7 separate regions of the Homo sapiens genome follow, and all the other regions are linked to region 2. Evidence: fine-mapped expression QTL. A gene starts in region 2. Each other region holds a variant in brackets. All regions are shown on one strand. Distances are between the middles of the regions.

Region 1 (4,208 bases), 45 kb before region 2:
AAGAGGGTGATATGGTTTGGCTGTGTCCCCACCCAAATCTCATCTTGAATTGTGGCTCCCATATTTCCCACGTGTTGTGAGAGGGATCTGATGGGAGACAGTTGAATCATGGGGGTTGTTTCCCCCATACTGTTCTCTTGGTAGTGAATAAGTCTCACGAGATTTGATGGTTTTATAAAGGTTTTCCCTCTTGCTTGGTTCTCATTCTCTCTTGCCTACCGCCATGTAAGATGTGCCTTTCACCTTCTGCCATGATCCTGAGGCCTCCCCAGCCACATGGAACTAAGTCCATTAAACCTCTTTTTCTTTCTAAATTACCCAGTCTCGGGTATATCTTTATCAGCAGCATGAAGACAGACCAATACAGGGTGTCTTTGCAGATGTAATTAAATTGAGGCTACTGAAATGAGATTTGTTCTGGATTCCCCAGGTGGGCCCTAAATCCAGTGACAAGTGTCCACATAGGACACAAAGTGGAGAAGACGCACAGGCACAGAGGGGAAGGCCACATTCAAAGGGAAGCAGAGACTGGAGGGATGCACATACAAGCCAAGGAACAAGGAACTCCTAGGGTCCCCAGGGCTGGAAGAGGCAAGGAAGGGCTCTCCCCTAGAGCCTTCTGAGGAAGCACAGCCATGCTAACACCTTGATTTTGGACTTCCGGCCTCCAGAACTGTTGAGAGAGTAAATTTCTGTTGTTTTAAGCCACCCAGTTTGTGATCTGTTAGGACAGCAGTGGGAAACCAAAACAGGGTCTACCAGGCATGTGAAGGCTGTGATCCCAATCACCTAGCAACCCCCTAGAAACCTGAAAACAAGCATCAGACCCACTGCAGCCTCCTGGGATCTGGGGAAGGCCCTCTGCTCAGCAATCAGCTGCTTCTACTTTAAATTTTTACCACCAATCAAGGCACCAAGGTCGTGCCCCTGAGGTCCCAGTATTGCACATTGGCCGCCCTCCCACCTCCTGGCCCCTGCCTCAGCCGTACCCCCAGCCTGGGATGCTCTCACTCCTCCAATCACAGGGCTACCTCTGTCTCCTTCAAGTTATTGATCAGACACCACCTTCTTGGAGAGGCCTTCCCTGGCCTGTATTGAAACCACCTCCCGCAACCCATAGCACTCTCCACTCTGCTTCCCCGCTCCGTGTCTCTCCACAGCAGTTACTGTCCTCAAACATAAGTCATTTTGATTTCACTTATTTGTATGTTGCTGCCTTCACCACAAGGGCAGAGACTCAGCCTACTTTGTTCACTGCCTAGCACAGTGCCTGGCACATAATGTGCTCAACAGAGACCAGCTAAATTAACATATAAAATACTATCTTACACTCGGGTTTTCATATCTCAGGAATCCAAACCAGTTGGTGTCCACAGACCTGTGTGTTGGTGTCTTGTAGAGTGGGTTTTAAAAATGTGACATTAAATAGCATCACACAGGATATGTGCTCTCCAGTTTGCCACACTCCCCCGTGCTCCCTACAGTCTTACACCACCTGCACCCACTCTCATTACCTGCCCGACCCCTGAAGGCTTGGGTGTTGCAACCTTCTGATATAGCTAAGGAACTGAGAGCACTCCAACTTATTCCTGGGGAAGAGGGCAGTCTTCTATGCCAGTAATAATCATTATAATTAATAGTGGCGACTATCACTGGCTGAATGCTTATGGCTGGGCTGAAGACATTCATCACTTAATTCTCCCAATGGCCCATTTGACAGAAGAGGGAACTGAACCTGGGGAGCTGAATGACTGGCTAAGGCTGCACAGCTGGGAAGGCAGTGAAGACTCAAGCCTAGCAGAGGCGGGGTGCTGAGTTTCACGTTCACAAAATGTCACAGTCACACGGGAGGTGGTAACAGTGTCCTGAGGAAGTGCATAGAGGTCCCCATGCTCTTGGTCCACTCTTGGCTTCAGTTAAGCTCAGAATGGTCCCTTGGTGACCCAGAAGGGGGTCCTCTAGTGGTGACTTCATCAGGCACACCAGGGGTGGGGGTGGCCCAGGGTCACATCACCAAACACCAGGGATGCTGGTGGTGTGAAAGGCCACTGGGAGCTCCAGGCAGGGGGTGGCATTGCCTTAGATTAATTGCGTGGCTTGGTTTCCTTCTACTTAGGGCAAGTAACCTTAGCTTTTCCTTTAGGGTGGTGGAAATCCTCTTAAAACAACAACAACAACAAACAATTGCAGCCGATTTTTAAAAAGTAAATAATCGTACAAGTGGCACACAGATATATGATGAAAATTGTGAGGGAATGATTAGAATTTGGCAATCATTGGCTTGGTA[A/C]AACCCGGACCTGACATCCCTTGATGTGTGGCTTGGTACAACCCTGACATCCATTGATGTCATTCGGCTGTCGATTAGACCTCAGGTGCCACACCCACAGCCAAGCCCTGATGTCACCGTCCCTCCTGCTCCTCCCGAAGCCACTCCCCTTTCCTCCGGGTACTTGGGCAATCATCTTGGCTACGGTTCCTCCCATCTTTCAGTTCCCACATCCAATCCATCAGCAAAGCCTGTTGCCCTCTCTTCAACGTAAACACCCACGATCGTACCCTTGCCACCTCCCCCGTGGGTCAGGCGATCATCCTCTCTCCCTGAAATCAGGCCAGTTGCTTCCTGATTGGACTCCAGTCACTTATTCCCCACGGTGTAGCCAGAGTCTCCTCTCCTGACACTCTCCGGGGCTCCTGCTCACTCAGAGGAGCCCAAATCTTTCTGGCCATCCACAGAGTGTGGTGGGACCCAATCCCCTCCCCTCCCTAACCCCATCCCCCTCTCCGCCCACTCTCTGCAGCCACAGGGTCCCCTGCTCTGTCCACAGACTGACCAGGCGTGCTCCCATCCCAGAACCTGTGCCCTGCTGTTCCTTCTGCCTGGAAGACCTCTCCCCCGGAGCCCCGCAGCGGTGCCCTCACCCCCTTCTTGTCTTTACTCAAAAGTTCCCTTCTCCGTGGAGTCTTCCCTGGCCCCCAATATTTTCTACTCCCTTCCTTGCCTGACATTTTCAACCCTGCACTCATCATCTAACACATGATATACTTTTATGTTTTTATCTACTGATCCCGTTTGCTGTTCCCTGTGACTTTTGATGGCTCCACAGCTCAGCCTAGAACAGTGCCTGGCACGCAGTGGGTGCTCATAAATATTTCTTAAATGCACGAGTCCAGGGCACCCCAAGTGGAATCGATCCTTTGCTCCCTAGTCCCAAACACGAAGGAGAAAGGACGAAGCAGCTGGTAGTGAGAGCTCAGCCTCTCTCGGTCTCCAGACCCTGCAGAAAGGACAAAAGCTGGCCACCCACCTAACTGGTCAGACCCTTCTCCTGGAAGGGAACGCAGGGCAGGCCGTCACCTGATGAAATCACCTGCACTCCGCAGCCCCCAGTGCTGCCTTGGCAAACAGTGAACAGCCTCCAGAACCATTTCTTGTTTTTAATGGGCTCAGATCCAGGGTCTCGAAATGCTTAGATCTCCTTCCTCCTCATTCCAGAGGAAGCGAGCTGTGAGGTGCTCTTGGCCAGCACTCACCCTTCCCAAATCAGCTGGCGGAGGAGCGCTGTGTCAATCCACGAGTAAAGGACAACAGTGCCCCGGAATGACAGCAGCATCTGTGCATGGGCAGTGCTATGTGCTAAGCCTCCCCTTGGGGACAGTAACCTGCTTTATTAAAACTGCCATAGCGACGAGGCTGTGTAAACCTACCTCTGTAACACAAAAACATATGATCTCATCCCCTTGCCCAGCCCCAGCCCTAATGCAGAAGGACAGCTCCGACGGGAGGGAAGGACCTGAACGACACGGCCACACAGAAATGAAAAGGCCAGTTTTCAAGCTTTTCAATGCAGCTGGGCCAGCCAACCTCAACTTCTTTCGTCCAACATAAACCTGGGGACATGCAGACAAAAACAGACCCGGTTTCTTTCCATGACCAAACCTTCCCACCATACTGGGTTGAGGGTGAGGTCACTCTGACACCTCTGTGACTCTGATGGGCTGGAGAGGCCTCACCCCCAGGCCCATCTGTTGGGATTTAAACTTGGGGGCCCAAACCACCCAACTGCTAGAATGCAGTTTCTCCCATGACACTCCTGAACTGCCTCCCCATTCACGGTGGCTTTTTGGGGGCCTGTGTACCACTGTGCTATGATTTGTTTGATATTTGTATTTAACGTGATTTAAGAAAAAACCCTTTAATCTCAATCCAA
Region 2 (4,208 bases):
AATGTTATCTCCCAAATCAGGTCCAAATCAGGTGTGAAACTGCATATCAACTGGGTTCTTTGGACAGCAGCTGAACTGGGGGACATGCACGTGCATGCACACACACTGCTATGCTGTCCTCCTCCAAGACCAGACTTTTACAGTCAACTCATCACTCTACTCTCAAGTTTGAAAATTTAACATGTTATTAGGGTTTCAGAAAAAGCCATAAATTCAAATAAAAAACCCAAGAAGTACACACAAAGCCCAAACCCCAAACCCACATTGACCCTCAGCTGCAGCAGTGATGCCAACATCACGGCCTTTATGTATATAAATTTAGCTGGGGAAGGAAGAGGCCTTCATGTACAAAGGTCCAACATGCCATCTGCCAAGCCCACCACCTTCGCCTTTCAAGCTGCTTATTAGAACGCTAAATTACACATCCGACAGGCTGTCTGGATGAGTTTTCTCTTCTCTATGATGTGGGAGAGACGAAGCTGGGGAGAACATCTCTTACAGGGAAGGGGCCCCCTTCGTTCTGTCCTCCCTACCCCGTTCCTATACTTAACGATTGGCTCTAATTTAATTAGAACCCTCTGGTGGTTCTGTAATGGGAGGCAGAGGCTGTCAAGAAATCACCTTCACTATTCACTACAAGCTGAAATTTGGAGAGCGCGCAGATCCGGGGGTGTCCTCCAGAGAAAGCCCGTCTCTCCTGCTCCCTGTCTCCCCCTGAGAACCTGCTCCAGCGCAGCCTCCCCTTCTCTGCCCCAAAAGTGGGGGTGGACCCGGTGGGAAACAGGCAGGGGACAGATGGAGGGGCGAGAGGGCGGGTGTCCCAACACGCACAGATGAGCAAATACCCAGATTGAAACGTAAGCTGAATGTAATTACTTGGTTAATTAAATATTGACTTTTAACTCAAAAAGTGATTAAAACAAGCTGCAGGAAGACTTTCCAGAAAGGGGGGCAGGGAATGAATCAAAGCTTTCAAGGGGGAGGAGGAGGAGGAGAGGGTCGTCACAGGCAGGTCTGGCTTGCTCTTCCTACTGTGTGCTGGGCCTACTGCGTGCAGGTGGGGGAGTTGCGGACCGAGGCCAGTGTGCAAACTAGGATTGCAGGCTTCCCTTTCCATCTTCCACCCCGAGACGGCATCTCTCTACCCTGCTGCCCTCCCAGTGAACCGGCAGCTTCTGGCGCGCAGGAGCCAGATCCTGTTCAGCCGCGTTTCCCTGGAACAGAACGCGGTGCCCGGCACGAGGGGGTGCTCCAGAAATGCTTGTAGAACGAATGAACGAACTACTATAAGGAATGTTTGGAAAAGTGCACTCCTAGAATTCACCGCTAGACTTCTGAAACCCCGAGGAGCCGGGGAGGGGAGCATCCCTCCGCCAGGCGATGGAAACTCGTTCTGCCCTGGCCTGGGAGGAAGTCTGCCTTTTCGATCCTGTTTGTCCTTTCGGTGTCTGCGAGTTTCCAACCACTCTGAAGATCCGGCCCACTGCTTCCCCGAGTCCTGCCCGGACAAGCCCCACGTGGGCTGGCATCTACCGGTCCCTTGGGTCTAAACCCTAAGGGTCAACAAGGCCATGCCCCTGCGGATGGCCGGCCCAGGCGCGCTCCCCTACCCGGGGCCGCCTGTGCTCGGTGTGCCGTGTCCGCGGGTCAGGGGCGCGGCGGGAAGTCCTCGCCCGCCCGCCAGCCAGCGGGGTCAAACAGGTCATCCCTCTGCGGACGGCCGGCGCCGGAGCCTCCCTCCCGCCCGCCCGGACCCACCTCCGCAAGCAGCGCTGGGGCTGGAGCCGGGCGGTCCGGACCAGCCCCGGCTCACCTGGGCGGCGCTCGCGGCCGGGCTCACGCCGGGGAAGGCTCCGGCCGCCGCGAGCCCCCGCCCGAGCCCCGCGTCCCCCAGCCACCCACCTGCCCCCCACGCCCCACTCACCAGCGCGCACGGCCCCGGCAACCTCACCCGGAGCGGGGCGCCGCCGCCGCCTCTGCCGCAGCCCGGCCGGGCCGCTGGGCGCAGGGGACTCCGCGCCGCCGCTGCCGCTGCCGCCGCCGCCGCCGCCGCTGCCGCTGCTGCATCCCCCGGCGAGCGCTGCTGCTCCTCCTCCTGCCTCCTCCCCGCCCCCCAACGCCGCCGCCACCGCCCCCGGCCCCCTCCCCGCGCGCCGCCCCAGCCAAAGTCCGGCTCCGCACCCCGCCCGGACCGCTCTTAAATCGCCCCAGCCCGGCCGGCCACGCTGCCCCAGCCAGCCCCTTGGCACGGCGCTACCGCCCCCCGCTCGCCTGCCCGCCGGCCTCCACGCAGGGGAGGCGGGCGCGCTCCGGGGCGGGGAGCGTCGGGCCGGGAGCCGCGGACGGCTGGGGCCCGGGGCGCGGGGGGCCCAGCCGCGGTGCCCTCCTCGAGCCCTCCGCGCGCTAGCGCTTTTACCTCCGGCCTGGGGGACGCGCGGCCCGCGACCCGGCCCTGCCTGTCCCCGGCGCACGGCCCCGGCCCCGGCCCCGAAGTCCAGCTCCGGACGGGGCAGTGAACGCAGAGCTGGGGTCCCGGCGGCTCTCGACCTCCCGATGCCTCCGGACTCGGCTGGCCGCGCTCCCGGCGCCGAGCGCGCACCCTCGCCGGGACACACAGACGCACACTCACTCGACACACTCTCGCTCCTGCTCGCCCTCGGCGGAGAGTTGAAACAGATGTGGGATTCGCCCAGGAGCTGGAAACGAGGGAGGGAAGCGAGCCAGAGCCTTGTGTGCACGTGTGTGTGCGTAACACACAAACCAGGGGGCATCGCTAATAAATCAAATATCGTGATAAATTCAGGAGGGCCATCGATCAGGTCCACTTGGCTGGAAACGACGTGAATCTGCCTCTTTTCCGCTTTCTTCTTCTCCTCTCTCGGAGCTGGAGGGAGCCAAATGTTCCGCGGGGAGTGCGACAGCCCCGGCCGGGCGCTCCCCTCGTAATGACACGTTAATAAATGTTTTCTTTTATCTGCTTTCACAGGACTCGCCCCGGTCTGCAAACACTCGACTGCCTTTGCCGAAAGCCTCGCGCTCGCCTCCAGCCACACACATTTGCCATTGGAGAGGCCGGCGCCGGCCGCGACCCGCAGCTCAATCGCAGGGCAAACCGAGCTGCCTGTGCGCGCCCGAGAACTCCCCGAGAAATTAACTTCGGCTCAAGTGAAAATAGCAGCTGTTGTCCAGAAATGGCCCGGGAGTAGCATAGAAAGGAGAAACCGGCTTCCTCCGAAAGGGGAGGAATTGGACTCAAGGGGGTGCTGTCTACCGTGGTTTCCGCTGTCCCTCGCGCCACAGAAGAGGCCGGAGGGGGACCGGCCTGACGCGGGTGGGCAAAGAGCGGGCAGAGAACTCACCAGCAGCTGCAGAAAACACAGCCGAGTTGCTAGCTAAGGGGAAACAGACGCCGCTGTGGGAAAGCACTTGTAAACAGCAGTAACTTATTAAATCTTGTGACAATCTCACACAGTAAGTTACTATGCCCGTTTTACCATGGAAACCAAGAGAGGTTTAGTAACTGTCCGAAGATCACACAGTTATAAGTGGTGGATCCTGTGAAGCCAAGAAGCCTTAGCTCCCGGCTCATGCTCTTAAATCCTAGGATGTTTTTACTTTTCAACCTAGCATCTCCTTTCTCTGATATGATCCTCCATGGTAGAGTTGTCAGACTTAACAAATAAATATAGACATCCACGGGGAGGAAGTTAGTACTAAAAAATCATTCATTTTTAAATCTGAAATTCAAATCGGATCTCCTGACTGGGTTTGGAGCTCTAGGCTCCTCCCCATAACCTCTGTTAGCCACGCCAATCAAGTTAGAGCCTAAATAAATCAGAAAAACCTTGCACTTGCTTTTCCAAGTCAGGTGCTGGCCCTACCTTTGGCATCACTGATAAGGCTGAACAGCTCCCACCTTCTTTGCCCTGGGACAGAATGTCAGGCTTCACCATCATAGACCGAAAAATAATGGAGACCCCTCTCCTTCCGCCTCATCTCTGCAGAAGGACATATATATCATTTAGAATTTTCTAGTAGTGGCATTAGAAAGTAAAAAGAAACAGGTGAGGGCCGGGCACAGTGGCTCACGCCTGTAATCCCAGCAGTATGGAAGGCCGAGGTGGGCGGATCACTTGAGTTCAGGAGTTCCAGACCAGCATGGGCAACATGGTGAAACTCCATCTTTACAAGAAATACAAAAATTAGGC
Region 3 (4,208 bases), 110 kb before region 2:
TCTGTGGGTTTACAAACACACACTGGGTGGGGAGGCACAGTCAGGCCTGTATGGGCCTGTACTAATTCTGTGTGCAGTGTTAAGATGGAGTCATTCAAATGCAGTCCATCAGAAACGCATCCACTTCAGGCCTTGGCCTTCAATACCAGGGCCCTGGTTTTGCTTTTTCTCATAGGTGAAACAGGCACACAGCTCCAGCCCCAGCTCAAAGTCCCAGCCTTTGACAGGCAGGGCAGGGACACACCTCCGGCACCCCTTGGGCCAGCCAAGGCAGAGTTTCCATCCCACTCCCCTCCCTGCCCTGCCCCGCCCCCGACCCTCCTCTCCAAGCCTGCCCTGGCTTTCCAGCCTCAGAAAAGCCTCCTTCAGGCTTTCCCAAACATGTCAGTTTCTGGCTATCTCTGATACTTCCCAGATAATTTTCTTTTTTCTTATGTTTTTAGAGACAGGGTCTTATTCTGTCACCCAAGCTGGAGTGCAGTGGCGCAATCATAGCTCACTGCAGCCTCCAACACGTGGGCTCAAGCCATCCTCCCGCCTCAGCTCTGGAGTAGCTGGGACCTCAGGCATGAGCCACGGACTGTTCCTGGCCATAATTTCCTTAATATTTCTCTTGCAATCAATTCACTTTTTAAAACCTTACCTATATTTATTTTAAAAAGCCATGTCTTATTACTCCTATAAAAGGAAAACCAGTCACAAAGAGGATACTGTCAAAGTGAATATGGTGAAAATAAAATAATTTAACTCCTGCTGGGGCCTTCGTGCAAGAGAGATCGGCAAGGGCTAGAGAGGCGCTAAGGGCATACACACACCCACGGGACACTTGGCCTCTGACACGGTCAGGGTCCAAAGGCTGCTGAGAAATGAATCACTTATTGTGAGCATCATCCTGCACCACCAAACAGCATCTTGGGCACCACACGGCAGCAAAGGACTACCCGTTGGGAGGCCCTGGCCCTGCTGGCTCAGCGGCTCTCAGAGCCTCGCAGGTCAGGGCCGGCTGCAGTCAGGAGGGGGAGCCGTTGGGAGGGAAGGGAGCCTTCTTACCTGTCCCAGCTGCTCACACGCCGTCTGGTACTCAGCACGCTGACACAGGTCCTTCACACGCTGGTACTTGGGCAGAAAGTTCTCCTCCTGGGCGTCCACCTTGTCATTGTCTCTCTTGTGTAGCAGCTTGCTATGGGGCAGAGAGCAGGAGCCGCGGGGCCGGCCTCTCAGCTCTGGAGGAGCCCCGGAGGCATGTGTGCCCACCTAGAGGGGTGCCCCCTCGGCTCCGGCTTTTCCTCACAGTGGAGGGCGCAGGGCCACCTGCCCGGGTCTTCTGATGTTTAGGAAACTTAAGACATTGGAATTTTATAAGAAACTTCCCAAATTGCATGAGTTGGCAATAAATTAAATAAATTGAAGACATTGTAGAGGCTGGACAAAGCATGCCAAAAGCGTACACGTGACCTCAGACCCCAATTCTGTGTCTATAGGAGCAGTGAATGGGCTTTGTGTTTAGGGGCCTTTGGACCAACTTCAGAGCCATGGGCAGCTCCTGAATAGCATGATGCGGTGGGGCTACAGAAGCTTCCTGGGCAGAGGGAGGGAGGTGGGCAGGGGTGTCCCTCCCAGGACCCGGCACTCACCCTCTCTCCACCAAGAAGGAGTCCCGCCAGACCCTCATCTTCTTTTTCAAGTGAAACCTGGAAAAAAGCACGGCTCCTGCTTCTCAGCAACATGAGGGCTTCCCACGACCCCCCGTTCCCCCAGGAGCAGGGACGGCACCAGGAGTCAGCCTTGGTTTACGGTCAGCCTGGACAGCAATTGTGGTGAGTGTGCCCAGCTGGGCACTAGAGCATTGCCCACCCTCCTCTGAGTTGAGCCACCCCTTCCCCAGAGACTTGGGTCTGGAGACACACACAGTAGAAATGACCCAGGTCAAAATCACTGTAAGTCCCACCCAAGTAACTGTGTGTGTGTGTGTGTGTGTGTGTGTGTGCGCGCACACACATCTCAAGCCCCTCCCAGGAAGCCCAGCAACTCCCCCGGCACTAGACGAGCTCTATCTCGAGTTCAGCGTCAGGCGCAGTGGTTCAGCATCAGGCGCAGTGGTTTGGCGTCTTGAGCTCTGTCTTGAGCTCAGTGTCAGGCGCAGTGGTTGCCTTGATGTCAGGTTAATTGCATTGGGTTTTGGGAGTATTTTCTTCTTTGGTGCTTTGCAGTTGCATGTATGTAATTTGTATGTTTCATCCAGTGCCACCTGGTCATTTCCATTTCCTAGATGGGGACTCTGAAGCTGAGAGGGGAAGCTTCCACCCTGTCCCCTGACCCCCAGGTGTCCTGGCTCCCAGGCCAGTGTCCCCAAACATGTCCATTTTATACCATTACAGCTTGCCTGGCCTCACAGTCAGGGGAGGAGCCTCAATGGACACGGTCCCCCTACAGGGCAGCCAGATGTGGGCACACAGTGCTCGCCTGGCTGGAGCCTCTGGGAGGCCACAGGGGAAGGGCTCCGCTGCCAGAGGTGCAAGCCAGGAGTTGAAGTAGCACCTGGAGGCCAGGAACCTGGTGGCTGTTAAGAGCGCTGGCCACCAGATGTCGCTGCGGCCACACCAGCCTCCCCGCCCTGACTCAGCCCACCTCCCACCTGTC[T/C]GACTTGCTCACCCTCACGGTTCCTATTCTGCCTCTCTGGACACCTAGGAATATGTTCCCATCACACCCTCCAGCATTAAAGTTATGGGGCGTGGTGAGTCAGCATCTGAATTCCCAGAGCTACATCCAGACTTGCTGGGATACCTCCGACACGTCACTCAATCGCTTTGGGATTCAGATTCCAAACTGGTAAAATGGGGATGATGATAATGTCCACCTCGCTGGGTTACTGTGAGGATCAAATTCCTAGATTTCCCTGCACAGTACTTAGAATAGGGCCTCACACACAAGCGCCGTGCAGTTAGCACCATCTCCTACCATCACTGCTGCTATCATTTCAAGCTTTGGGTAATTTTAGCTCAGAGAAGGTCCCCAACTGGTCACCTTGGCCACATTCCAGATGGGAAGACAGAATCTCGGAGAGGGGACCATGCTTCTCTCCCACAGCAGGTAAGTGGTTGGCATGGCGGGACCTGAGAACCCCAGCTCCCGACCCTTGGAGACCCCACGTTCTAGACCCACAGGGTTTTGCTCTGAGTTCCCGCAGGTCAATGTCCCGGCCCCCTCAACACCTGCCCTGCTCCGTCCTCACCGATTCACCGGCCGCTCCGTGTCCAGCAGCTTGAGGATGGATTTCCCGTCCATATCCGCAGGTATGTCCAGGCCTGCAATGTCCAGGATGGTGGGGGCCAGGTCAATGTTGAGGACGATGTGGGGATTCCTGGGGGAGGCAGGAGATCGGGGACTCAGTCACTCAGGTGGTGGTGCCTCAGCCTCGCGTGGGGGGTGGGGAGCGGTAGGTGGGCAGCAGTTTGTGGGAGGCTGACATCTGCAGGTATGGAAGCTGCAGTCTGGCACCTCAACCTCAGCAGCTCCCCTCTGCGGCCCAGATTCAGCTGAACCCCCACTCTGTGCTCGCCCCCCCTTAGTTTCTGTGTCTCAGCTCATGCCGTGAGCTGACAGCCTCACCCTGTCCCCCTCCTGCCCTTCCTGTCCCCACTTCCTGAGTGAAGGCGACCCCCCCTTTACAGCCAGCCCAAATCCTGGCCCTTCCTGAACCCTTCCCCTGAACCTCTGGGGCAGACACTGGCTCCTCGCTGTTCCTTGACAGCCCAGGCACAGTGCAGCCTCAGGGCCTTCTTCTTTACCATCCTCTCTGCCTGGAATGTCCTTTCCCTGGAGATCAGGGGCCACCGTCCCTCACCCCTTTAGTTCTTTGCTCTATGACCAAGGAGGCCCGTGACAGGCCTCAGTGGTCCCCAGAATCCCTGTCCCTGGTGATCACACCTTAATGTGACCCCCTCACCTTGGGTGTGGACCAACCTGCACCTGCTGCCAACCAGTGGGTTGTGAAGGTGATGGGCTGTCACTCCCGTGGTTGTGTTATGAGATAGTCAACTACTATCCTGCTAGCAGTCTGGCTCTGGTTTCTTTCTCCCCTTGCTGGCTTTGAAGAAGCAAGCCACTCTAAATCAGCAGCTAGACTGTGAGCAGTCTGGGAGGCAGACTGCATGGGTTCAAGTCCTCTGCTTGCACTTGACCTGCCCCATGAGCAGGGACGCAGATGC
Region 4 (4,208 bases), 290 kb after region 2:
AACAGCCCACACAGCGATCTCCACAGTGCCTGTCATGATGTGGTCGATTTTGATGGCAAAAATAACTAATTGAAACCCTACGATTTGTTTACTTTGAATACATTAAGGTGGTGGTTATCAAATGGAGCTGAATTATCCCTTAAATTACCATGAAAACAAAATCAATAGTTTATTTACCACACAAAACAAAAGAAAAAAGAAGGAATAAAATGCTCTGAGGAATCTTTATTAGAAGTTTTCCTTGGAAGAATACAATGTAGATAAACTCAGAGTAAATAAGGTATATGGTAACTTGGAGGAATAAACTGACCCCTAGTTCATAATTGTTTATTTCTTGGTTCCTAGCTTATAAATAGTCCGGTGGGGCCTTTCTAAAGTCTAAATTTCTTTCTAACCAAGTGATTAGAATAAATGTCCCGTGGTCCAACAATTGAGTGCAGTGTGGGTGTTTATACTATTACTTCAACTAAATACTGTTGTTTTTTTTTTAGATGGAGTCTCACTCTGATGCCCAGGCTGGAGGGCAGCGGCATCATCTTGGCTCACTGCAACCTCTACCTCCCGAGTTCAAGCAATTCTCCTGACTCAGCCTCCTAAGTAGCTGGGATTACAGGCACACACCACCACACTTGGCTAATTTTGTATTTTTAGTAAAGACAGGGTTTCACCATGTTGGCCAGGCTGGTCTCAAACTCCCCACCTCAGATGATCTCCCTGCCTCGGCCTCCCAAAGCGCTGGGATTACAGGCGTGAGCCACCGCGTCTGGCCGGTACTTCAACTAAATATTTAAGATTATTAGTACATTGAGCTCATCAATGCTTCCACTTTGGGGTCCAAGAGCAAAACTGGAGCTAATTCAGATTATCACCACCTAAGTTGCTTACTTTTAAAAATTATTATTATTTTTAAATTTGGAATGTCTCAGGGTTTCTGCTCCAATTCATAATTCCTGTGTCTTTAGTGGAAATGTCAGTACTTTATAGGATGACACACACAGCATTATTCCTGGCTGTTGAGACACCAAAAAGCCTGATTTACTGTTCCTTCCAGAGGATCCCCAACACCGACATTGACTAAATTCCTTTTCTGCAAGCATCCTGGCAGATGTTCTGGTTAAGACCTTGCACCGTCACGAGCTCATCCTTTTCATGCTCCAACAGCTGTTGAGTGCTGTGTAGCCACCACCCAAGCATCTGACATGTAAGGGCCCTTCCTGCCCACCTCCTGGTGACAGCTGACAAACTAAATGAGAAGAAAACCTTTATTTTTGCTTCAAAAGATGGAAATTGGATTATAAATTAATGGAAAAGCCCATCTGTGAACATGTTCTTACAATTTCTAAATGTTACAAGTCAGAGAAGCACAAGGGCCTGGGAAATACTCAGTATTGGTATTAGTAACTCCTAAGCTAGGATTTTCCTGGGGGATGGGGAGGAGGGCTGCAAACAGACAGGGAGGCTCTGTGCCCTGATCTCCAAGCCTCGGGGGGGAAATAGAACCAGAGGATGGGGCTGGGCTGGAGAGATGGGTCAAGTCAAGGTGGAGAGGATGTGTTGAGATGCTATGGCAGACTGCGGTGGCTCCTCGTCGCCATCTGTTTTCCTTCTTTTTTATTAGATATTTTATTTGCCATATGGCCATATAGAATCAAAACTCCATTTTCCATCCAGGCTTGCTGGTAGATGTGGCTAAGAAGTTCTAGTTGGGGGAATATAAACCTATTTGTTGTGTCCAGATTCTGAGAGGTATCTTAAGGAGTGAGAACATTCCCTCTGTCCGTCTGCCAGCTGGAATGCAGACTCAGGCGTCTGATCTGGAGCCGTCACCTTGAGCTATGAGTGAGAAACCCTTTGCTGATCATGGCAGAGTAACAAGCTAGAAGGAGCCTTGCTCCTCGATGGCATGGGGGCCGCTGTATTAGCCTTAGGCTGTCCTCCTTTACATAAGACAGAAGGACACTTTATCTTGTTTAAGGTACTGTCCATTTCGGGGGGAACTCATAACTGAACAAAATCTCAGATCTCATCTCAGAAGGCGTCTCTGAGCTAGAAATCTTGGGGAGATTCAGAAGTGTAATAGGTAGTTCCTGTGTCCAATATGATTAGGTGTCCTGGGGAAAACTTCATAAACTTTGAGCAGGAGGGTGTGGTGCAGACTGGAAGAGGTTTCAGGGTTTTGAGAAAGGTGGTGAAGGGTGAGAACTCTCTCACCCACCCCAAATACGCTGCTTCAACTTGAGGATTACTGTGAACTAAAGGTGCTTGAAAAACAGCAGATGCAAGAAGAGCATTCTGATCTCACATTTTCTTCCTGAAGATGGGAGATAAAAATTCCCATGGGAAAGATGCCCTCTTTGTGCCAGGAGAAAAGAAACATTCTTTGATGGGGAGTCCTAGCCGAGATAATTCTGTACAGACCTTGTTAAAACAACTCTTAT[C/A]TTTTCAGCCTCCCCACATGAGTGAGCTGCTTTTTCACAACTTACTGTTCTCTGTCCAATTTCACTATCTGAGGGACTGACTCTGCTTCTTTGGGTCTTCATTTCCTTAAGATGGCTCCCATGCCACATAAAACTTGTACTAAATAAATTTGTATGCTTTTCTCCTCTTAATCTATTTTAGGTCGATTTCATTCTAGAGCCCAGCTGGAACCCTAAGAGGTTGAAAGTGGAGTTTTGTCTCCTCTGCAGTGGACACTCAAAGAACTAGCCAGGATGGGTTGGACCTGGGAGCAGAGAGACCATGGCTCCCTTCCAAGGCTGGGAGAAGGGAGTTGCCACTCCTTCCCAATCAAACCATGCCAAGAACGAGGCTTTTGCAGGGAAATCAGTGCAGATGAGAACTTACCAACAGTTAAGATGAATAAATATATCCAACTGCCTGGCCCATGTCAACACGCAACAATTATTTGCTAAAAGAAATAAAAAAGGGGCCGGGCAGGGTGGCTCATGCCTAGAATCACAGCACTTTGAGAGGCTGAGGCAGGCAGATCACTTGAGGCCAGGAGTTTGAGACCAGCCTGGCCAACATGGTGAAACCCTGTCTCTACTAAAAATACAAAAATTAGCCGGGTGTGGTGGTGCGCACCTGTAATCCCAGCTACTCTGGAGGCTGAGACAGGAGAACTGCTTGAACTCGGGAGGCAGAGGTTGCAGTGAGCCAAGATGCACCAGTGCACTCCAGCCTGGGTGATAGAGTGAGACTCCATCAAGAAAGAGAGAGAGAGAGAGAAGAAAGAAAAAGAAAGAGAGAGAGAGAAAGAAAGAAAGAGAGAGAGAGAGAGAGAAAGAAAAGAAAGAAAGAAAAGAAAGAAAGAACGAAAGAAGAAAGAAAGAAAGAAAGAAAGAAAGAAAGAAAGAAAGAAAGAAAGAAAGAAAGAAAGAAAGAAAAGAAAGACTGACTGCATGAACAACAGCCCAGGAAACACAAGAGAAGTAGCGTGGAGTAGTGGCCAAGGATGGGTGCTAGAATCTCAGAGCCTATATCTGTATATCAAGATGTCTCAGGCCAATGCCTAAAAACAGTGTTCAATAAATATCGAATAGTAATATTACTACTGTTATCACAATTGAGAATAACTGAGTGTCAACCAGCTGATCTGCTTGCCAATGAAGGGACTCCAGGATCCTTAAGTCACTTCTATTTTTCTCCACTTCCCTGGCAACTTTTTCTCCAAGACTAGATCGATTCAACACTCCTCCAAGTCCTGGGTTAACCTCAGTGGCCCTCTGCCTCCCATTGTGATCACCTTCGTCCACAGCAATCTTTTCCTTCTCCGACAGCACATTATTACCTTGTCATTGGGCACTTGAAGTAGACATCCTTTGACATCCTCTGTGAATGTTACCTTATTTCATTCCTTGTTTTCCCAGCATGTAATGGGCAAACAAGGCCCTTCAAAAAACAGATCTGACCCTGTTGACTTCTGCAGACACATCTAGCATCTCTTTCAACTTGAAAAATCATGTCTATATTCCTGCATTCCTAAGCTACCAGCTAAATTTTTTATAAGTTTAAATTTATATTTGGATGTAATTATATATTTATAAATTACATATATATTTTATATTTTTAAGATATTTACTTGTGTAAAATAAATAAATAAATGGGTAAAATTTTCAGCATATTGTAAATACTGGATATTTTAAGAGAAAACCGTAATATAACTTAAAGTATGTCCAACTGAGGCTCAATACGATTGTGATTTGATA
Region 5 (4,208 bases), 20 kb before region 2:
CTGCCACTCCATCCCTGCTGTGGACAACACCTCTCCTTCCCACCAGTTCCTTTCCAGGTCTCTCTGGCTCCTCCTCTCCATCCTGAGTCTTCTCCAGGACCTTGGCAAAGGCTCGCCAGCCCAGGAGACATCTCTGGAAACAGCTAACGTCCTGAGCATTTAGAAACATCATTTTTAGTTCTCAATTTCTCTGCCGATCTGCCAAGAGGAACGGGTCTGAGTGACTGATGCCCTCACCTTCCCAATGCCACAAACCACAGCGGTGAACAAACACCTGGGACCTCATCCAGACCTGTTTAGAAAGACCCAGATGGGCTGTTTTCCTCTGAGGATCTCCAAATCCAACAAGAGGAGGAGAGAGAAGTTTGGGAACAATCAGGCAGCTGAGGTGGTGGGAGAGGAAGAAGGGGCCAGAGGCAGAAGGAGGCACTGGTCAGATGGTAAATGTCCATGAAAGGCGGGAAGAAAGCAAACTGTGGGTGTGCAGATACGTCCCACGGGCTGGGGCCAGAGCCCCGCAACAGACCTAGCGGCCTCCCCAGGTGGTCCAGAGAACCTGATCATTTCTCTCTCTTCCTTCTTTCACTTTACAAATACGTATGAAGGACCTCCTATGAGGCACAGTGTTCAGTGATAGGAGAATCCTGCCTGGATTCCAACAGCCTCCTAACTGGTTTCCCTGCTTCTACCTCGTCCCTTCCATCAAGCAGCCAGACAGATCCTGTTAAAACAAAAGCAAGGGCCTGCCTTCCTCCACTGAACGGCCTTCAATAACTTCCATCCCACGCAGAGTAAAACGCAAAAACCCTCCAAAGGGGCTACAAGAACCCACCCAACCTGCTCCATCACCTCTCCGACCTTATTGCCTTCCCCTCTCTCCCTTGCACACCTGGTTCCAGCCACACGGTCTCTGTACTGTTCCTTGCACATGCTAGCACAGCCCACCCCAGGGCCCTTGAACTTGCTGCTCCCTCTGCCTGGAGCCTTCATTCAGGTTATCTTCACCATCCCTTCTTCCCCCTCCTCAGGTCTTTGCTCAAATTTCACCTTGGCAGGTTAAAACCGAAATCTCTGCCCTCCCCAGTAGCACTTACCACCTCTCACAGCTAGCTCCTTTATTTCTTTGCGGATGTCCTCCAGCAGAATATCAGCCCCCTGAAGGTACAGGTTTTTGTCATTTTTGTTCAGATCTATATCCTCAACAATTAAAACAATGCTTGCGGCATAGCAGGCATTCAAAATATTTACTGGCTTAACAAAGAATTATCTCCTGTCTCCTGGTAACAGCCCCTGTTAGTGCTTTGAGGCCACAAGTGCTCTTATTTCCCACCCCCCCTTATATATGGTTTGACTGCAGGGCAGCGCATGTGAGCCAGGTGGAGCCAATCAGCAATTCCAGCTCTAGCTTCAGCGATTGGTCCTGGGGCAGACATGTGACCCAAGTCTGGCCAATAAGCGAGAGGGAGTCCTGGAGGCTGGAGGAGACTGTGCTGGGTGCCAGGAGGCATGAATATGGTGCTGATGGTGGCCGCCCATTGGATGGAGCCCGAGAGAGAGGATGCTGGTGACAATGGGGTGGACCAAGTTGCATCTTGTAGCCAGGTACAGACTCAAAAAAGTGCCCTTTGCTGCTTAAGAGAGTCCGAATTAGGGCTGTCATTTGCAACAGGGAGCACCCAGACCAACACAGGAAACACCCTAGAAGAACAATAATGAATGATAGCTAACATCAGGGGCCCTGCACAATTCTAAGCACTTTTAGTGTGTGACCTCACGCCACCCTTACAACCACCTTGTGAGTTGGGATGCTCCATTTACAGACAAGGAAGATAAGGCACGGACAGGTTCCAGAACCTGCCCAGTGTCGTGCAGCATGGGTGCTGAATACTGTCCCTTTGGTCCTCCCTTCCCATCTTCTCTCCACCTCCAAATCCAACAAGAGGAGGAGAGAGGGCTGGGCGCGGCAGCTCACGTCTGTAATCCCAGCACTTTGGGAGGCCAAGGCGGGCGGATCACGAGGTCAGGAGATCGAGACCATCCTGGGTAACACGGTGAAACCCCGTCTCTACTAAAAAAAATACAAAAAAATTAGCTGGGCGTGGTGGCGGGCGCCTGTAGTCCCAGCTACTTGGGAGGCTGAGGCAGGAGAATAGCGTGAACTCAGAGGTGGAGCCTGCAGTGAGCCGAGATCGAGCCACTGTACTCCAGCCTGGGTGACAGAGCGACACTGCCTTAAAAAAAAACAAAACAAAACAAAAAAAAAAAAACAGGA[G/A]AGAGAAGTTTGGTAATAATTAGGCAGTTGAGGTGGTGGGAGAGGAAGAAGGGGCCAGAGGCAGAAGGCGGCATTGGTCAGACGGGAAACACTCATGAGAGGAGGGAAGAAAGGAAATTGTGGGTGTGCAGATATGTCCCACGGGCTGGGGCCAGAGCCCAGCAACAGACCTGAGGGCCTCCTCAGGTGGTCCAGGGAGCCTGATCATTTCTCTCTTCCTTCATTTACTTTACAAATATTTATTAAGGGCCTGCTATATGTGAGGCAGTGTTCAGTGATAGGAGAATCCTGCCCGATTACAACAGTAATCCACTCTTCCCTGTCCCCTGGGAGGTTCACTTGGATGTGCCACCTCCAAGTGACAGACAAAACAAGCAAGCCAGCATGGCTATTTGCACACAGACATTCTGACCCCAGAGCCTACTCTTTTGACACTTATGCTGACTTGGAAAGCAACAAGTGATACAAGGGACTGAGGTTAAGTGTGTTGTATAAACAGCAAGAGGAAAGGGGAAACTGCTGGCCTGGGAGCAGTCAGGGAGGGCTTCCTGGAGGAGTACTTAGCATAAACTGAGCAGCCTAACAGGAGCAAAGTTCTGAAGAATCCAAAGGATTTGGATGGCCAGTGAAGAGGAGGGTGGAGGACAGGATGCTTCAGGCAGGAGAAACAGTTTGGGCAAAGAGCAGGCAGAGGAAACAGAGAGAGGCCCCTGGAGGGATGGGAAAGTGTGGTCCCAAACCTCACAAGCCCAGAAGCTGTCTAGACAGGGGATGACACACGCACATCTGTTAAACTTTACACTCCCCTGTGTCTCCCTTTCTTCCTGGCTACAGGCTTTCTCCAGCCTTCTCTCCTCCTCTTTGGGGCCGTCAAAGAAAGGACAGAAGCTCCTGTAACCTATGGGCCACAGCTTCTCCCTGTCTCCCCTACCTAGCCCAGGCCATCTTGTGGCTCTCCTTGCCTGTTCTTGGAATTCCAAATGGAGGCAGAGAACCAAGCCGGCTCTCAAGAACAGGGCAGGAGACAATAGAAGGGTCATTCAGAGGGAGGAGGGAAAGATCAGGTTTCAAGACAAAGGCTCAGGATCTGGAAAGGAAATTAGGGCATAAAGATTGTAGGGCAAAAATGCAGGGCTTAGGAACCCAGTTACCTGCCTAACTATTGATGTAACAAGACATTCCTGAAGGCTCGTGTGTGCCAGGCACAGTTCTTGGCACTGTGGATAAAGCAGTGAAAAGAAAGCTCCCTGCCCTCCTGGAAGTGATACTCTAAGTCAACATAGGAAAAGCTGGAGTTGAAAGATTCCAGCTACATGTGAGAATGATCAGAAAAGAGGACTGGAAATAATGGCAAACCACCGGCAAGCTGTGAGAACAGAGTGGCCATGGATTAAAGTTAGAGCACAAAGGAAATTTAGAAACAATGTATTCAAGTCTTAGGAAGCTGAGCACCAAAATGTTTTGTATGTCAAGTGGGTAGATGTTTGACAGGCCATATAATTCACACCCTCAAATACCTGAGCATCTGCCACTTGCTTTGTACTGTTTCATGATCAGTAGAAAAAAAAAAAAAGAACAGACAAAACTCTCGATTCTCAGAGAGCTGACAAACAGCGGACAGAGGTAAGCAAACAGCCTGATACTTACTTGGGGGAAAATGCCACAGGGAACACGCTGAGTAGGAGGAGGGTAGGATCTAGAGCTAGCCTGCCTGGGTTTGGATCTCAGCTCCGTCACTTACTAGAGGTTGGGCAAGTGTCTGAACCTCTTGTCTTCTCAGTGACTTCATCTGGAAAGTGAGGACACCTACAAGCACTTGCCTACAGAGTGGATGGTTTAACATGCACGGAGACTTTCAACAGATCTGTATGCAGCAAGTGCCCAATAAATGCTGGCTTGTGTTCTCTGCTAGGTTTGGGCCACCCAGGATTATCTC
Region 6 (4,208 bases), 120 kb after region 2:
TTTTAAACTTTTCACTTCTTTATTGCAACTAGCACATTTGGAAGGATAAAATACAGAAAGAAGTCCTGCTATTTACAATCAACTTTCACTAAGCCAGTGTTATATTCAAAAACAGCAGATAAAGCTCATGGCTTTGATGAAAGGGGCAGTCTTTTCATTGGAAACAATTAATACTGCTCCCCGTTCTGGGGAGAATTTAAAGAAAATAATTTGGAAGGGGATATGGCTTGATACAATCAAATGATTTCAGATCACAAATGTAATCATTTGATCTTGCTTTAAAACCAAACATTTCAGAACAATCTAGCATCACATTCTCTTCTGAGTCTGTGAAACTCTGAATTCTGGGTGAGTCTGAATTCCCAAGGCAGGACTGAGGATAGAAAAGATTTGATGGCAGAAACCTGGTACTGTGGTTATCACGTGGGTTAAAGATGTAGGCTTGGTTAACCCACTGAACCTGCTTATGTATGAGGCTCACCTGAGAAGGTGATATGGACAAGCCCATCTTATGGGTCTGAGGGCTCTTCACCAGGAGTGGAGCAAGGAGGATGGCCCCAGCGTCCCCGTCTCTGAACACGTTTAGCGGGAGGGCTGTAGAGCCTGGACAGATCACCACTGGCTCCATGGGGAACTTTCAGCAGCACTCATTGCCTGTGTCTATTCTGTGCCAGGCACTGCGCTCAGGGCAGGGATTTGGGATTCACCAGGGCACAAGGCGACGTGCGTCTGTCCTCACGGAGCCTAAGTGCTGGTGGAGACGGACAGTGCAGATGCCAACCGCAAATGACGAGGCACTTGCAGGTAGGGGTCAGCGCCAAGAAGGAAATGAAGGGTGCGTGTCGCTGACTGAGACTCTGGTGGGAGCTACTTAAATAGGGCCATGGGGGAGGGCCTCTCTGAGGAGGTGACATTTGAGCTGAGGCCTCACCAATCAGAAGGAAAAAGCTGTAAAGGGTCTGGGATTAACTCAACCTGGGGACTTTTAAAATAATGTAAGGTGTTACAGCTCTTTTAGAATTTGTCTAGCACGTTTTCCGGTTGTCACTCCCAGGTGGGCTCGGGAAGAGGCATCTGTGCCAGCTCGTGGCCTGTTCTTTGCACTTGTGGGGAAGGGGTCCCCTTTTCCCACAGCCGTCCCCCCGGGGCCTGCTCCCAGGTGGGGTCTGGTTTTCACCAGAAAGCCCTCCATGCAAAAACAAAAAACAAAAAACAAAAAAAACCCACCACACAATTGAATTTGAATTAGTTGCCAGCATTTACATTTTAATTCTAAAAATCTGTATTTTCGACTTCGTTGGAAAGTCAGACTATCTGGCCAGGCTGGGCTGGGATCTGGTGGAGTTCAGTATTTTGGTTTCTGGTTAGGGAGGGTATTTGGGGTTTGCCCCTCCAGCATCTGTTCCAGTGTGAAGTGGGGGTGGAGGCCCAGGCTCAGTGGGGGGATCTGCAGTGGCCAAGGGTCTTGGCTGTCTCCAGATGGCCGGATGGACGCTGCCCCCTCCTGCTTGGGGTGTGCTGGGGTTCTTTGCTGCCCCTCCTCCCAGCCCACAGCCTCTTGAACTCCACGGAGACCACCCCCATGTGAGGCTGGGAAGGGAAACCTGCCTTTGTAAGTGGAATCAGGTGAAATCGGGCTGTGACTGTGTCAGTCAGAAACTAAAAGGCCCTGTCACACCCGTGGCCAGGAAGACTGTCACCATGGTGGCATGGAAATGACAGAGACGTGTGGGACAGCGTCTGCCAAGAGACGAGCCAGGTGAGGGCAGGTCGTCATGAAGGAGGGAGGTGGGGTCCTCCCCACAGAGCAGCGCCATCCCACAGAGAAACAGCCTCTGGGGAGGGACGCGTTCCAAGGAGGCCCCGTGCAGTGCAGAGTGGGTGGCTCGAGGCCTGAATGCCGGGCACTCGGAGCGGTCAGTGTCCCCGTGGGAGCAGGGCTGCTCGCAGCCAGGTGATTGGCGACCTTGGATGGTCAGCCCCTGTGTGCGTGTGAGGGGGTGGCCCTCTCCTCTGTCTCTTCTGAAGGCAGCAGTAAAGGAGGGAGGCCAAAGAGCTCAGTGTCAGACGAGCCTGGGTGCAGGTCCCACTGCCTGCCAGGCCAGTGCCTCTGAGCCT[C/T]AGTTTCCTCATCTGTATAGTGGGGTTAATCCCAACCATGTATACTGTCTGCCTGCCATGTGCCAAGCCCTTCTAACACATCTTTGATTGCCTGAGGGCAGGGACTTTATTATCCACCTTTAGAGTTGAGAAAGAAGAGGCACAGAAAGGTTAAACCACTTACCGGGGGTCACACAGCTGCTATGGCAGAGTAAAGACTCCAGACTCAAATGGAGCACTAAGCCCCGCCCTGGGCGCCAACAGGTGCTCCAGGAATGTCAGGTGCCATTTATCACCCTCATCACCTACTGGGAGCGCTCGTCCCATCATGCAAACCCCGTGAGCGTGAAGTGAGGGGACACGTGCAGGATCGAGTGTACTGGCGGGTAATGAAAGTAAAGTAATAACCACAGGATGATATTCACAACCCACAGTAGTGCTATCAACAGCCGCATCTGCCTGCTTCTCTGGGCCCAGGATTGCCTGCAAACTCCCAGGAACTGGTCCTAGGTGGGTCAGAAGAAGGGTCTGACGTTATGGGAAGGAGCAGCTTGCCCAGCTCATGGCCTGTACTGTGCATTGGGAGTCCCTGCCCCCAACAGCTGTCCTCCAGGGCCTGCTCCCAGGTGGGCTCAAGAGGCCACAGAGCTAAGCAGCTTTAGGCCAGGGTTCTGCGGGTTACTGTGTGCCTGTGGGAGTGACACCCCCACCCCCAACCTTCCTGCCCTGCCAGCTGCTGGACACACAGCAGCTACAGGGCATGAACCCTGAGACCAGGACCTCTGTGGGTCCCATGGCACAGAGCCCCCTCCTCCCTGCCCGACTGAGAAGGAGGAGGCGCGCCTCAGGGTGAATCCTGCCCCCCCTCCCCCGCTCACTGCAGGATAAACGGCCTCTAGATCGAACACCTCACAACAGGATGTGTCTTAGCGTGGTTTATCAAATCACAGGCTGTGATGCATTAGTGGGTCTTGAAATCAATTTAGAGTGTCAAGCCCGGCATTGAAAATCTGCAATAGAACCAGAATAGACTAGGTCAGGAGGCATCAGAGCGCGTTGTGTGCAGCGAGGGTGAGTGTCGTTTGGGTAAACGTGCTGCGTATCTGTATAAATGGATGTGCTTGTGTGTGGTGGGTGGCAGTTTGCAATGTGTTTTTAGGTGGGTTGCACTAAAAACGTTAGAGAATCTCTGTCTCACCGCCTTACGGTAACACAAAGGGGAATCACCTAGTAGTGATCATTTTCCTCAGAACCTTACATTTCCCTGATTTGAGACCGTTTATAAGACTGAGAAACAGGTCTAAGCTGGTGCCAAGAGTTTTGGTTACGTCAGGGATAAGGCTGTGGCTCTCTCATCCCACAGTCCATGCTGAGGGCTGGAGGGGAATTGAACTGCAGGATGAAGTGATGAACATGCAAGAAATGAGACCGGGAATGGGAGAGGCTTGCAAGGCAAACAGAGATGGGGAGAGGAAGGGACGTGGGTAGGGGTGGGTGACTGTGAGGGAGAGAAAGGGGGTGAGGGGTTATTTATGAAGCTCTAGGAGCTGCCTTCCTAGAGTCCGTGCCACCTGGACTCAAACACTCATTGTCCATTCAATGACCCCTTGGAGCTTAAGAGCTCTGTTAGGATCTGAAATGTGTCCAGCAGATCTTCGGAGCCATTGAATTTTCATCCCATGTGGGATCTGGACACATATGCATGCAAACTAACATCCTTACACATATGCACACACAGATACACATGCCCCCACATACTCATGCATCCACGTGCTCACACACAGATACACTCACACATATACATTCATGCACATGCATGCATACAATGCCCACACATATATGCACACTGATACACACTCACAGACACACTCATATGCACACACACACATAGACACACTTATATGTACGCTCACACACATGCTCACTCCTACATGCACTCTCCCACACCCACACATGCCCACGCACTCACAGACACAGTGAGTCAGGTGTATTTAATACGCAGTTCGTGCCTATGCCTCCCCCAGATCCCCATGTGACCTGCTCGTTAGAGGAGGCCCGGAGTCCTTGGGGGAGCCCTGGTGTCCCGCCACCTGATCTCCATGACAACCCAT
Region 7 (4,208 bases), 100 kb before region 2:
TTGGCCAGGCTGGTCTTGAACTCCTGACCTCAAATGATCTGCCCACCTGGGCCTCCCAAAGTGCTGGGATTACAGGCATGAGCCACAGGGCCCGGCTTGCAATGAATTATTATGTAGTTCTTAGACCAGGCCCTGAAGAGTAGACACTCCATACGTGTGGACTGTCGTTATTACAGCTCTTAGTCCAATGGGGACGCTAAGAGCCAAAGACGGGCGTGATCTGATAAGGTCAACAGTCAGTCATCACTTTCTCTGGCCTTGAACTCATGCAGCCTGCCTCCTGGAATTCTCGCAAAATGTCCAAGGCAGTGGGAACATGTCAGTCTGGAATTCCACACTGCACTGTCAACGCCTTTTCAGGAGGAATTCCGCAGCCAGCCCTGTGTGAGTGCTGGGTGTGTGTTCCCACATCTGGGCATGAGCAGAAGGCAGACCAAATGACAGTCTTAATAGCAACACATCTGCTTTTCAAAAACCTCATTTGAGCCAGCCTCCATAATATCCCAGCCGATCCAAGGAAGCTGCTGCCGGGAACAGTGGCCTGTCCGCTCCCCTGCCCCAGACGCAGCATGTTCGCTGCCAGAACATGTCAACTCAAAGGTTAGCCCGAGGAGAATGGCTGGCTGAGGGCTGCGGCCCACGTGGTCCTCCAGGAAGGATGGGAGGGAAGAGCATTTCCCTTTGTGCTGCTGCCCAGAGTTGGCTCAGCTGATCCCAGCTGACAACCAGCTGCCTGTGCTGTGGTCCGGGGTTCCTCCCTGACAACCTCCAGGCTCAAAGACTGCCCAGCCCAGAACAGAAATCCAAGCACCATTCCCACCCGCTGGTGACATGCATGTGCGCGCACACACGTATACAGCCCAGCTCCCTGGATTTCCTGGCATACGGCCCCACCACACCTGTTTCCACAGGTGCTAACAGCTCCCGGCCTCTCCTTCCCCAGCAGAGGGATATAACATGCATGACATAATTGCTTTCCGCTGGCCCTGGGGTACATCTGCGAAAACTGTGTGCCACCCAGGGTGGGCTTGGGTTTGGGCTGCATGGTTGAAGCCCTGAGCTGGGCCCAGGGGCCTCCCTGGGTCCCTGGGGGATGACACACTTACAGACAGCCGGCTTCCACGTTGGGGCCCCTCACGTAGAACGGGACCCTGATGTCAAACTCATATGGCATGGATTTCCCTTTCACCAGGCCAAACTGGCCGATGTGGTAACCGTGGTCGGCGGTGTATACGATGTACGTGTTGTCCAGCTCGCCCGTCTCAACCAGCATGTTGTAAATCTGCAACACGGGCGAGGAGGCAAGGGACAGTGGGGACTGGGTGCCTGGCCCGTCTCCGACCCGGGGTGACAGGCGCTTGAGATCTCAGGCCCCGTCCCTCCCCTGCTTCAGGTCTTTGCTCAACTTTCCCAGGGGCTGTCCCCTTTGTCACTGCACCTTCCTGCCTCTTGTCACCCCTGGCCCGCCCTCCCCTCCACGGTTCTTCATGGCCCTTCTTGGCATCCATCTCTTTTACTTATCTGTGGATCATCTGTGTCCCTGCCTTGGCATGCTGCCTCCATTAGGGCAGACACTTTTGTCATTTTGTTCCCTGCCTGCTGTATCCCACGTACACTGGCACTCAATAATGCTGTCAGGTGAATGAATGAATGAGTGAAACTTGGGCTGCAGCCTATGGCAGGATCTTGCGATCTGGAAGGGCGCCGTGTGGCAGAACTTTCTGCATTGGTGGCCGTGTTAATGTCTGCACTGTCCGATATGGACACATATTGGCTCCAGCCACACGAACCTACTGAGCATGTGAAATGAGGCTTGTGTGACAGAAGAACTGACTTTATAATGTTACTGCATTCAGTTTAAATAGCCATGGCTAAATAAAATGTGACAATACCCATACAATGCGATATTATTCAGCAATAACAGGGAATGAGGGGGACTGATTCATGCGACACCAGGGGTGAAGCTTGAACACGTGGCGCTAAGTGAAAGAAAGGCGCTGGGCACAGAAGGCCACAGCGTGTACGATTCCATTTATAGGAAGTGTGCAGAACACCAAATCTATAGAGACAGAAAGAGATCACCAGTTGTCTGGGGCTGGGGGTGAGGGAGATTTAGTGGGCCATCTAAGGGCTGTGAGGTTTCTCTTTGGGGTAAGAAAAATGTCCTAACATGGATGTGGTGATGGTTATACAACTCTGGGCATATTAAAACCACAGAATTGCACACTTTAATTGGGGGAATTGTATGGTATGTGAATTACATCCCAATAAATGTGTTCAAAAATGTAAATAGCAGGAAAAAATATAACTAGCATATATGGTTACCGTATTGGGCAACACAGATCTAGAAAATGTTTCATGAAGGAAGAGGCTTTTGTCTGGATTGCTCCAAGCTGTTCCCCAGGTCTAGCACATGGGGCCTCTTCATTCTGCCTTTGATTTCTATTCCTCCAGGAAAACCCTGAAGGGCCAGGAGGTCTCGGCCCTGGCCTGGCTGGGGGTT[C/T]GGAGCCACGCCCACCAAGAGGCATGCAGCGGGCGCCTACCGTCTCCATGGAGTCGTCCACCGACATGAGGGTCTGCAAGCGCTTCCGCTGGAGCATGTTGGTGAATTCCATGTGGATGGGCTTCATGGGCCCCGTGTAGCGCATGATCCAGTGTTTGTCCGGGTTGGGCGCGTAGTTGTAGCTCGGCGTGCTGGTGGGCAAGGACATACACATCGGTCAAACCCAGGGACAGCCTGGACCCTGCCTGGCCCCCGCCAGACCCGCCCGGATGAGCAGCCACCCTGTGCTGTGTCTGCAGCCCAGGGCCAGGTGTGATCTCCTGGTGGGAAAGGGGACATTGGCATGTCAGGGGCTTATCCAAACCCTGTTTCAGCGTTTCTCCACGTGTGAAGTGTGCACTTGGGAAGCTCCTAAGAGGCACAGCATTCAGTGACCTTGAGTGACAAAGTGAGACAGCCAGTCCCTTGTCGGCTCTCTCAGGGCAAAGTCTGTTTGGTGCTAGTGTTTCTTTAACACCTCTCTAGACTTTGCTCGTCTTCCTTTTGAAAAAAGGGAAGAAAGTCAAGTTCAGAGCCTTCATCGGGAACCAGTACCCAACTCAAATTCCATAGCATTGCTTTGTGTGCCTTGTACCTATTATTGGTAGATGGCAGTTACCTTTGGTGAATGGCAGGTGGCAGTTATTGTGGTTAAGGTAGGACCACGGAATATCCTTTTGCAATAGATTTTAGTTTGAAATAATAGAAATGGATTTAAAAATGAAATAAGTCATAGTTTTATGTGTAAGGCCAGAATTGTGAGGAAGGCACCTGAATGTGCACATTTGGGACATGCCACATTCTTTTTTATTTTTTGAGACAGTCTCGCTCTGTCGCTCAGGCTGGAGTGCAGGGGCGCAATCTCAGCTCACTGCAACCTCCACCTCCCAGTATGAGTGATTCTCCCGCCTCAGCCTCCCAAGTAGCTGGGACTACAGGCGCGTGCCACCACACCTGGCTAATTTTTTTGTATTTTTAGTAGAAATGGGGTTTCACCATGTTAGCCAGGATGGTCTCGATCTCCTGACCTCGTCATCTGCCCACCTTGGCCTCCCAAAGTGTTGGGATTACAGGCATGAGCCACTGCACCTGGCCTCTTTGTTTTGAGATGGAGTCTTGCTGTGGTCCAGGCTGGAGTGCAGTGGTGGGATCTCAGCTCACTGCAGCCTTTGCCTCCTGGGTTCAAGTGATTCTCCTGCCTCAGCCTCTTTAGTAGCTGGGACTACGGGCTTGTGTCAACACACCTGGCTAATTCTTGTAGTTTTAGTAGAGATGGGGTTTTGCCATGTTGGCCAGGCTGGTCTTGAACTCCTGACCTCAGGTGATCCACCCACCTTGGCCTCCCAAAGTTTTGGCATTACAAGCATGAGCCACTGCACCTGGCATGCTGCTTAATCGTGCAGCAGGAGTGTGTTGGGCAAAGTTCTGTCTGAGCACCTGTGATGTGAGGGATGGAGGGACCCCAAGCAGGTATCTATGATGATATCATGGCAGTGGTTGACTATACCAGCTGCTGGGGTTCGAGCCCCAGTTCTGTCTTTGGCCAGTTAGTCCCCTCCCAAGGCATCAGTTCCCTCATTTCCTACCCAAGGAGAATACAGACAGTGCCAGTTCCCAGGAAGGTTGTGAGCACTGAGGGAGAGGCTGTAAGGGGAACCCTTCTAAC

Alleles and levels. Positions count from the first base shown, and alleles are read on the strand shown. Sizes are in standard deviations (SD) of each study's normalised expression. Not every link is listed here.
For the expression in testis of the gene that starts at base 2,063 in region 2, allele C in region 4 goes with a higher level than allele A (moderate effect, 0.63 SD a copy in GTEx).

Evidence for each region. PIP is the estimated chance that this variant, and not a neighbour inherited with it, causes the effect.
Region 1: its variant is fine-mapped to the expression of SULF2 in whole blood (TOPMed, PIP above 0.99).
Region 3: its variant is fine-mapped to the expression of SULF2 in blood mononuclear cells (TOPMed, PIP above 0.99).
Region 4: its variant is fine-mapped to the expression of SULF2 in testis (GTEx, PIP above 0.99).
Region 5: its variant is fine-mapped to the expression of SULF2 in whole blood (TOPMed, PIP above 0.99).
Region 6: its variant is fine-mapped to the expression of SULF2 in whole blood (TOPMed, PIP above 0.99).
Region 7: its variant is fine-mapped to the expression of SULF2 in whole blood (INTERVAL, PIP above 0.99).

Annotation. Positions count from the first base shown.
Region 1 is chr20:47,738,481-47,742,688 of GRCh38, forward strand. All of the region lies in intron 2 of SULF2 (sulfatase 2), which reads right to left. Among named protein-coding and RNA genes, the nearest start is that of SULF2, 45 kb to the right of the region's middle. The variant A/C (reference allele first, on the strand shown) is at 2,288.
Region 2 is chr20:47,783,419-47,787,626 of GRCh38, forward strand. It overlaps SULF2 (sulfatase 2), which reads right to left and starts at 2,063. Exons shown (of 21, transcript NM_001387048.1): 1 at 1,925-2,063. LOC124904920 (a long non-coding RNA gene) reads left to right here and starts at 2,336. Exons shown (of 2, transcript XR_007067618.1): 1 at 2,336-2,744; 2 at 2,987-3,467. It overlaps LOC124904921 (a long non-coding RNA gene), which reads right to left. Exons shown (of 3, transcript XR_007067619.1): 3 at 3,922-3,998. RefSeq lists an enhancer at 3,181-3,350.
Region 3 is chr20:47,675,444-47,679,651 of GRCh38, forward strand. It overlaps SULF2 (sulfatase 2), which reads right to left. Exons shown (of 21, transcript NM_001387048.1): 8 at 3,233-3,361; 9 at 1,635-1,691; 10 at 1,051-1,180. Among named protein-coding and RNA genes, the nearest start is that of SULF2, 110 kb to the right of the region's middle. RefSeq lists an enhancer at 3,344-3,844. The variant T/C (reference allele first, on the strand shown) is at 2,641.
Region 4 is chr20:48,068,704-48,072,911 of GRCh38, forward strand. No RefSeq gene overlaps it. Among named protein-coding and RNA genes, the nearest start is that of LINC01522, 81 kb to the left of the region's middle. The variant C/A (reference allele first, on the strand shown) is at 2,439.
Region 5 is chr20:47,763,118-47,767,325 of GRCh38, forward strand. The region is part of intron 1 of SULF2 (sulfatase 2); the gene reads right to left. Among named protein-coding and RNA genes, the nearest start is that of SULF2, 20 kb to the right of the region's middle. RefSeq lists an enhancer at 2,543-3,315 and a silencer at 3,188-3,482. The variant G/A (reference allele first, on the strand shown) is at 2,273.
Region 6 is chr20:47,903,350-47,907,557 of GRCh38, forward strand. It overlaps the pseudogene RNU7-92P. Among named protein-coding and RNA genes, the nearest start is that of LINC01523, 78 kb to the right of the region's middle. The variant C/T (reference allele first, on the strand shown) is at 2,119.
Region 7 is chr20:47,681,888-47,686,095 of GRCh38, forward strand. SULF2 (sulfatase 2) reads right to left here. Exons shown (of 21, transcript NM_001387048.1): 6 at 2,544-2,694; 7 at 1,107-1,282. Among named protein-coding and RNA genes, the nearest start is that of SULF2, 100 kb to the right of the region's middle. The variant C/T (reference allele first, on the strand shown) is at 2,504.